Homo sapiens: one gene and its partner. The protein of the gene in region 2 interacts with the protein of the main gene of each other region in a pairwise test. Each region holds a gene or a part of one and is shown on either strand. Other genes may lie near its edges.

What was found. The genes of interacting proteins can lie anywhere in the genome.
Region 1: the proteins of HSD17B14 (region 2) and NUDT18 interact in binary tests that used the Homo sapiens proteins (3 or more experiments, as listed by UniProt).

What each region holds. Positions count from the first base shown.
Region 1 is NC_000008.11:22,107,564-22,111,308, forward strand, and holds the start of NUDT18 (8-oxo-dGDP phosphatase NUDT18), read right to left. Parts: upstream 1,738-3,745; coding exon 1,576-1,737; intron 784-1,575; coding exon 570-783; intron 333-569; coding exon 1-332. UniProt on the Homo sapiens protein: Mediates the hydrolysis of oxidized nucleoside diphosphate derivatives. Hydrolyzes 8-oxo-7,8-dihydroguanine (8-oxo-Gua)-containing deoxyribo- and ribonucleoside diphosphates to the monophosphates. Hydrolyzes 8-oxo-dGDP and 8-oxo-GDP with the same efficiencies.
Region 2 is NC_000019.10:48,829,778-48,833,522, forward strand, and holds part of HSD17B14 (L-fucose dehydrogenase), read right to left. Parts: intron 2,956-3,745; coding exon 2,889-2,955; intron 1,983-2,888; coding exon 1,891-1,982; intron 1-1,890. UniProt on the Homo sapiens protein: Catalyzes the NAD(+)-dependent oxidation of L-fucose, yielding L-fucono-1,5-lactone, which rapidly converts spontaneously to L-fucone-1,4-lactone. Can also act on D-arabinose and L-galactose, with lower catalytic efficiency. Does not use NADPH.

The DNA of each region.
Region 1 (3,745 bases), on a different chromosome or scaffold from region 2:
CCGCAGGACGGCCATCTTCATGCCACCCCTCTGCTCCATAGGGTCGAGGCCACAGGCAGTGACAGGCAAGTGAGGCATCCCCACTGTGCCCACTAACACCCACACTGTCTGGGCGCTGGTAAAGGTAGCCACGAGCCGCTGGCAGACCAGATCACAGGGTAGCTCTTGGGGCAGAATGAGAGGGTGCCTGGCTTGCTGGCGATACTGGGCGGCTAGTTCAACCAGGTGCAGGATGTCATGGGCTCGCAGCGGAGTGGGCAGGGAGGTCCGTGGGTACCAGGCAGCCTGCAGGGACTCCGCATCGGCCTCCTTGGAAGTCTTGAGAATTCCACCTGGGGGAGATGTGGGGGATGGGGCAGGGAGGGTCTGTGTGGAGAGAAGTGCAGCTCTGGCAGAGTCAACAGACATCCCTGACCCAGGAGAGAGGCCCCCAGCCCAAAGGCTGGAATCTGCCCATGCCAGGCTGTGCCAGCCATAACAGGACTGGCTGTAGAGGGGCTCACCTCACCGAGGAGCTGGGGGAAAGGTGTCAACTGGCCCTGTTCACACTGCCTCCAGGTGGGCCATACCTGTGGGGCGAGCGAGGAACACGAAGCGGACCCAGGAGGGGCCCCGCTCCTCCACGGACAGCAGTGTCTCGGGCTCACAGTGCAGCCCCGCCTCCTCCTTCACCTCCCGCTGCAGCGCCTCCACGATGGTCTCCCCTGGCTCCATTCTCCCCGCAGGCAGGTACCACGACCCCCGGCACTCCCTCTTGGCCTCCTGGATCAGTAGCACCTCATCCTGAGAGGAGAGAGGATCCTCACTTCCTGCCACAGCCTTCCCTCGCCCCGGGACCAGGGGGCATCTCAAACACAGTCGCCCAAGACTCCCCTCTGGGTGGACACTCTCAACCCAGCTAGCGCTCCAGGAGACCTGCCCTCGTGTCGCTGGGGGCTGCAGCCCTCTCCTCTCTGCAATTCGTCTCTCTCTGGATTTAGGAAGACTTCCATTTCAGGAAGGGCTGAGATTCCTGGAAGCCGCTTCAGGGGCTGGAGATGAGGCCCCAGAGTGAGGGTCACCATGTGTCTGTCTGTCTTGGATTGATTTGCGTCTGTACCTGCCACTGTGTATCTCTCGCCTCCAACGGCGTGGTTTACAAACTGTGATGGGTCCTCACACTGGGGTCTGGCTTGAAACACGACCCCCACCTCCGCTCTGTACAACCCCGCCCTATGGCCCTGGCCCCGTCTAGTTGTCATTACATCGCCCACTACAGGCATCAGCACCAAAGGCCTGAAGGTAAGCCGGGATTGAGCCACTGCTATCTGAGGGGCCCTGGGCACTCCGCTAGACTCTGGGGAAGGGAAGGAATGAGGCCTAGTCGGATGAGACAAACAGGCCCCGGGCCTCAGTTTCCTCTTCTGCATATCGGGACGAACGCAGGACACAGATGCGAGTGGGAGTGGGAGTGCTTTGCAAAACTGGGAAGCGCCACGCACGCGGCAGCGCTGGCTGTGGCCGTTGGGTCTTCTGTCCCCACCTGGGCTGGCTGCGCGCTCCCGAGGCCCGGCGGGCCCGGGGGCGGCCGCTCACCTGCTCGCTGAGGAACACGGCCAGCACCACGTAGCACACGTTCTTCCGCAGCCGCACGGGCGCCGGCGGCTCCCCGGCCGGCGCCGAGTCGCAGCTGTGCACGCTGGACCCCTGGCCAGCCAGCACGGAAGCCAGCGCCCCCGCCAGGCCCTCCGAGGCCATCGGGTCCCCCGGGGGGCGGCGGGCCGGATCCTCGCAGACCGACTGAGCCGAGCCGCGGGCTAGAGTGCGCTGCGGAGCCCGCTCCCAGTCCCTGCGGCAGCGGGCCGGGAGCTCACGAGAACGCGGAAGCGCACGCGAACGCGGAAGCGCACGCGAGCTCTGGCCGCTGATAGGCTGCGCGGCGCCGCGGCCTGCCCGGATTGGCCGGCCCGCGGCATTCACCGAGGGGGCGGGGCCGCCCGGGGCCGCCCTGGAACTGGGGGGGCACGGGTCCGGAGCCCAGCGGACCCCGCCCGGCTTCTGCCGCCTGTCAGTCCCGTGCGCTCGGGACGTCTCCCAGCCGCCACCCGCTCGCCAACTCCCCGAGCGCGCACTGGTCTGCAGGAGCTCCGACGGTGACGTCATCTTTCCTGCAGGGCGCGTTGCGCCGCCGGGGTAGGCGACGGTGACGCGACAATCCGGTGACGTCACGGAGGCCCGGGGCCGCCCCCTGGAACCACTGTCCCGCTGTTGCCGTAAACACACAATGGCATTGCCGGAGTTGATCATATCCCAAATACCTTTCTTCTCATTCCACCAAAGAGTTATAAATGTCACATGGCCCGTGGGGTGGGGGACATAAACCCCTGCCTTGAAGGAGATTCTGCAATAGTTGGAGAGATGGACGGAGTCCTAGATGAGGAGTCAGCTGAGGGTTCGAGGCTAAGTGCTAAATGCTTGGTTTGGGCAGGAAGAGTGACAGGCGCTGGAAGGAGGGAGGGGGCAGGGCTGGGGATGGCGGGAGGGGTCCGGGGCTGAGAGAAGGCTGCCGTCAGCCGGCCCACCCTCATCAGTGTCCCTCTGCCTACCGCATTTCCCACGCAGCTCAAGGCCCTCTCTGCTGCAGATGGTGCGCCCTGGGAGGGCGGGGGTGGGGCCCTGCTCCTCCATCCTTGTCGTCACCCTCCCACCCAGCGTGCAGGACCTGGCGCGTGGAGAGCAGGGTGGGGGTGGTTGTGGCGAGCGCCTGCTCCTCTCCCAGCTCGGCCTTTCCTCCTTCACCCCACCTCAGCACTGGAAGGCAAAGCCAGCTGGAAGGGATCTGCGAAGCAGGCCGTCTGGCTCCTCACCTGGCAGAGGCCACCCCTTTCCTCTGCCTCTGATAGTTTTGTGCGCCTCCCTGCTAGGGAGACTGTGGCTTGGTGGTGTGGACAAAGCTCAGGACCTGCAGCCAGATGGCCAGCCACTGCTGACTGGCTTGCTCTGTGCTCCTGGGTGAGCTGTGGGCCTCAATTTTCTTATTTGTAGAGCAGGATCATAGCAATTCTTCTTTTACAGGGGTGTTGGGAAGCCACAACAATTGGAGAGGAGCTGTGTGGATTGTCCAGCACTGGGCACCGTCCCCAGGCAGCCCACCAACCCTCAGGGGTGGTCCCTCTCCACCATAGCTCTTGCTACCACACGCAAGGCCTGCCCTCATGAAATGTGACTTTTGTTATCCCCTAGAGTCAGGGTTTCACTGTGTTGCTCAGATTGGAGGTGCAGTGGCGTGATCACAGCTCCTACTGCAGACTTGATCTCTTGGATTCGAGTCATCCTCCTGCCTCAGACTCCTGAGTAGCTGGGACTGCAGGTGTGCACCACCACGCCTGGCTAAATTTTTAATTTTTAATTCTTTGTAGAAACGAGGGTCTTGCTGTATTGCCCAGGCTGGTCTTGAACTCCTGGCCTCAGTGATCCTCCCACCTTGGCCTTCCAAAGTGCTGTGGTTGCAGGCATGAGCCACCATGCCTGGCGAAATGTGCCTGTAGAGCTGCCTTAGAACTGGACTCAGGAACTTCAGCAACGCAGGATGCATCTCTTTAGGCTCCTCTCACCTGCTGATACTGACCACAGGCTCCCTGGAGGCAGGGCCCTGTGTTAGGCTGTGGGATATCACTAGAAGGCCCATGAATTTTGAGGCACTTGCTGAACGCCGCTGGGCCAGGCCCTATCATGGACCTCTCACCTTCCAAATAACTGCAGGCAC
Region 2 (3,745 bases):
GGATTATAGGCATGTGCCACCACACCCGGCTAATTTTGTATTTTTAATAGAGATGGGGTTTCTCCATGTTGGTCAGGCTGGTCTCAAACTCCCGACCTCAGGTGATCCGCCTGCCTCGGCCTCCCAAAGTGCTGGGATTACAGGCGTAAGCCACCATGCCTGGACTCCATGCTCTTTTTAAAAATTAATTAATGAATTATTTTTTTTTTGAGACAAGGTCTCACTCTGTCACCTAGGCTGGAGTGCAGTTGCACGATCTCAGCTCACTGCAACCTCCGCCTCCTGGGCTCAAGCTGTGATACCCTAACCTTGTTTTAACCTGAATTGACTCTCCCTTAGGTGAGCGAGCCAGACAGACTCCATCCTGGCTCCTTCACTTGCAGCCCCTTAACCCAACCCCCCTTTCTTCAAGGACTTAACTTGTGCAAGCTGACTCCCAGCACATCAAAGAATGCAATTACTGATAAGATACTGTGGCAAGTTATATCCGCAGTTCCCAGGCAGTCGCCCGATTAATAGTACCCTAAGCCCCCGCGTTTCTGTCTGGTTGATAGCGCCCAACGTCCAGCGTCTATCACCTTGGGATGTGTTTAAAGCCCCTGCACCTGGAACTGTCTGCTTTCCTGTAACCATTTATCTTTCTAACTTTTTTTGCCTGCTTTACTTCTGTAAGATTGTTTTAACTAGACTCCCCCCTCCCCTTTCTAAACCAAAGTATAAAAGAAAATCTAGCCCCTTCTTCGGGGCCGAGAGAATTTTGAGCGCTAGCCGTCTCTGGGCTGCCGGCTAATAAAGGACTCCTGATCTTGTCTCAGAGTGTGGCGTTTCTCTATAACTCGCTCGGTTACAACAAAGCAATCCTCCCGCCTCAGCCTCCCAAGTACCTGAGGCGCACCACCATGCTCAGGTAATTTCCGTATTTTTTGTAGAGACGAGGGTTTCACTATGTTGCCCAGGCTAGTCTCGAATTCCTGGGCTTAAGGGATCCTCTTGCCTCGGCCTCCCAAAGTGCTGGGATTACAGCTGTGAGCTACTGGACCTGGCCTATTTATTTATTTATTTATTTATTTATTTATTTTTGAGACAGCATCTTGCAATGTTGCCCAGGCTGTATGCAGTGGTGTGTACATAGCTCATGGCAGCCTTGACTTCCTGGGCTCAAACGATCCTCCCACCTCAGCCACCTGAGTAGCTGGGACTACAAGGGCACCACTACGCCTAATTTTTTAAACTTTTTGTAGAGATGGGGGGTTTCGCTGTATTGCCCCAGCTGTCTTGAACTCCTGACCTCAAGTGAACCTCCCACAAGGACCTCCCAAAGCACTGGGATTAAAGGTGTGAGCCACTGTGTCTGGCCCCAATATGTTCTTAACATCCCCTCCTACCACCACCAGTCTGGAAGGTTCTAGAAGGTTCCTAAGACTGGGCTATGTAGCTACAAAGGTAGATTTGCTGGATGTAGAGATTCGCAGTCATTTATCTTCCTTTTGGAATAAGGAGATTAAACTAAATAACAGAAAATAGATGGCCAGGCGTGGTGACTCAAGTCTGTAATCCCAGCACTTTGGAAGGCCAAGGCAGGCAGATCACTTGCAGTCAGAAGCATAGCTACCAAAAATTATGAAATTTAGCTGGTTTTGTGGCCCGCACCTGTAATCCCAGTTACTCAGGAGGCTGAGGCACGAGAATCGCTTGAACCCAGGAGGTGGAGGTTGCAGTGAGCTGAGATCACACCACTGTCCTCCAGCCTGGGCGACAGAGAGAGACCCTGTCTCCAACAAACAAACAAATAAAAAGAACGGAAAACATTTTGCTCTTAGACAAAATGCATCACACAATCCACCTATCAGGAGGCTGCTCGGGCCTGGCGGCAGGGTCGCCAGCCCTCACCTTGGTCAAGGTGTACGTCCCCAGTAGGTTCAGCTCCAGCAGCTGGCGGAATCCCTGGGCAGAGGTCTCCTCAGGCCTCTGTGGGGGTGGGTCTAAAGTGGGGGGTGAGAGAGAGAGGAAAAGTGACGGGGGCTGGACACAGTTGCCCACGCCTGTAATCCCAGCACTTTGGGAGGCTGAGGCAGGCGGATCATGAGGTCAGGAGTTCAAGACCAACCTGGCTGACAGGGCAAAACCCTGTCTCTACGAAAAATACAAAAATTAGCTGGGTGTGGTGGCGGGTGCCTATATTCCCAGCTACTCAGGAGGCTGAGGCAGGAGAATTGCTTGAACCTGGGAGGTGCAGGTTGCAGTGAGCCTAGATCGAGCCACTGCACTCCAGCCTGGGCGACAGAGTGAGACCCCATCTCAGAAAAAAAAAAAAAAAAAAAGCCGGGTGCAGTGGCTCATGCCTGTAATCCCAGCATTTGGGGAGGCCGAGGTGGGCAGATCATCTGAGGTCAGGAGTTCAAGACCAGCCTGGCTAACATGATGAACCCCATCTCTACTAAAAATATAAAAATTAGCCTGGCGTGCTGGTGGGCGCCTGTAATCCCAGCTACTTGGGAGGCTGAGGCAGGAGAATCGCTTGAACCCAAGAGGCAGAGGTTGCAGTGAGCTGAGATCACACCACTGCACTCCAGCCTGGACGACAGAGTGCGACTCCATCTGAAAAAAAAAGAAAAGAAAGAAGAGAAGAGAAGAAAAAAGAAAAGAAAAGAAGAGAGACATGGCCAAGTGAGGGCACAGCCCTGGGGACACACAGGAGGGATGGAACAGGGCCACAGTTTCAGCACAGGCCTGGGGGGCTTCCATTGCTTTACTCTCCTGTCCAAGTGGCTAGAAAGAGGTATGAGGCAGGATGAGGGAATCAGGGGCAGGGAGTGGGGAAACTGACGTGCAGGAAACAGAGTTGGGGGGCAGGAGGTGGAGAATGGCCCTGGGGTCTCACAACTCACGGTGGCCAGCGTTGTTGACAACACAATCCAGGCGGCCAAATCGGCGGATGGTCTCAGAAACCAGGGTCTGAGGAGAAAGGAAATGTCCTTTGTTTTTTTTTTTTGGAGACGGTGTCTCCCTCTTGTCACTCAGGCTGGAGTGCATTGGCACGATCTTGGCTCACTGCAACTTCAGCCTCCTGCGTTCAAGCAACTCTCCTACCTCAGCCTCCCAAGTAGCTGGGATTACAGGCGACTGCCACCACGCCCGGCTAATTTTTGTACTTTTTAGTAGAGACAGGGATTCACTAGGTTAGCCAGGCTGGTCTCAAACTCCTGAGCTCAAGTGATCCACCCGCCTCAGCCTCCCAAAGTGCTGGAATTACAGGTACCACGCCCAGCCCAGGAAATGTCCTTTGAATGAGCAGTAGATGGGGTGTCCAGCCATAAAGAAGACAGGGCTCCCAAATGCAAGGCAGGAGGGGGAAGCTGAACTCCCAGGTCAGGGGACAAGAGCTAGAGGAAGAGGGGACTCCGAGATCAGCAGACACAGCAGGCAAGCAGGAGACAGGAAGGAGACAGGGGGCTGGTCAGAGCCACACTGCAGTCGTCACACCCAGGGTCAGGGGGTGGGGCAGGGGGGTGACAAGGATTCAGAGAGCGCGTAGGGGACAGTTGCCCAAGGGGGGCAGATAACAGAGAGATACTGATTAAAAGGAAGAAATAGGAACCCAGAAATAATGGAGAAAAAATCAGTTACATACAGGCCACGTGCAGTGGCTCACACCTGTAATCCCAACACTTTGGGAGGCTGAGGTGGGCGGATCACCTGAGGTCAGGAGTTCGAGACCAGCCTGGCCAACATGGTGAAACCCTGT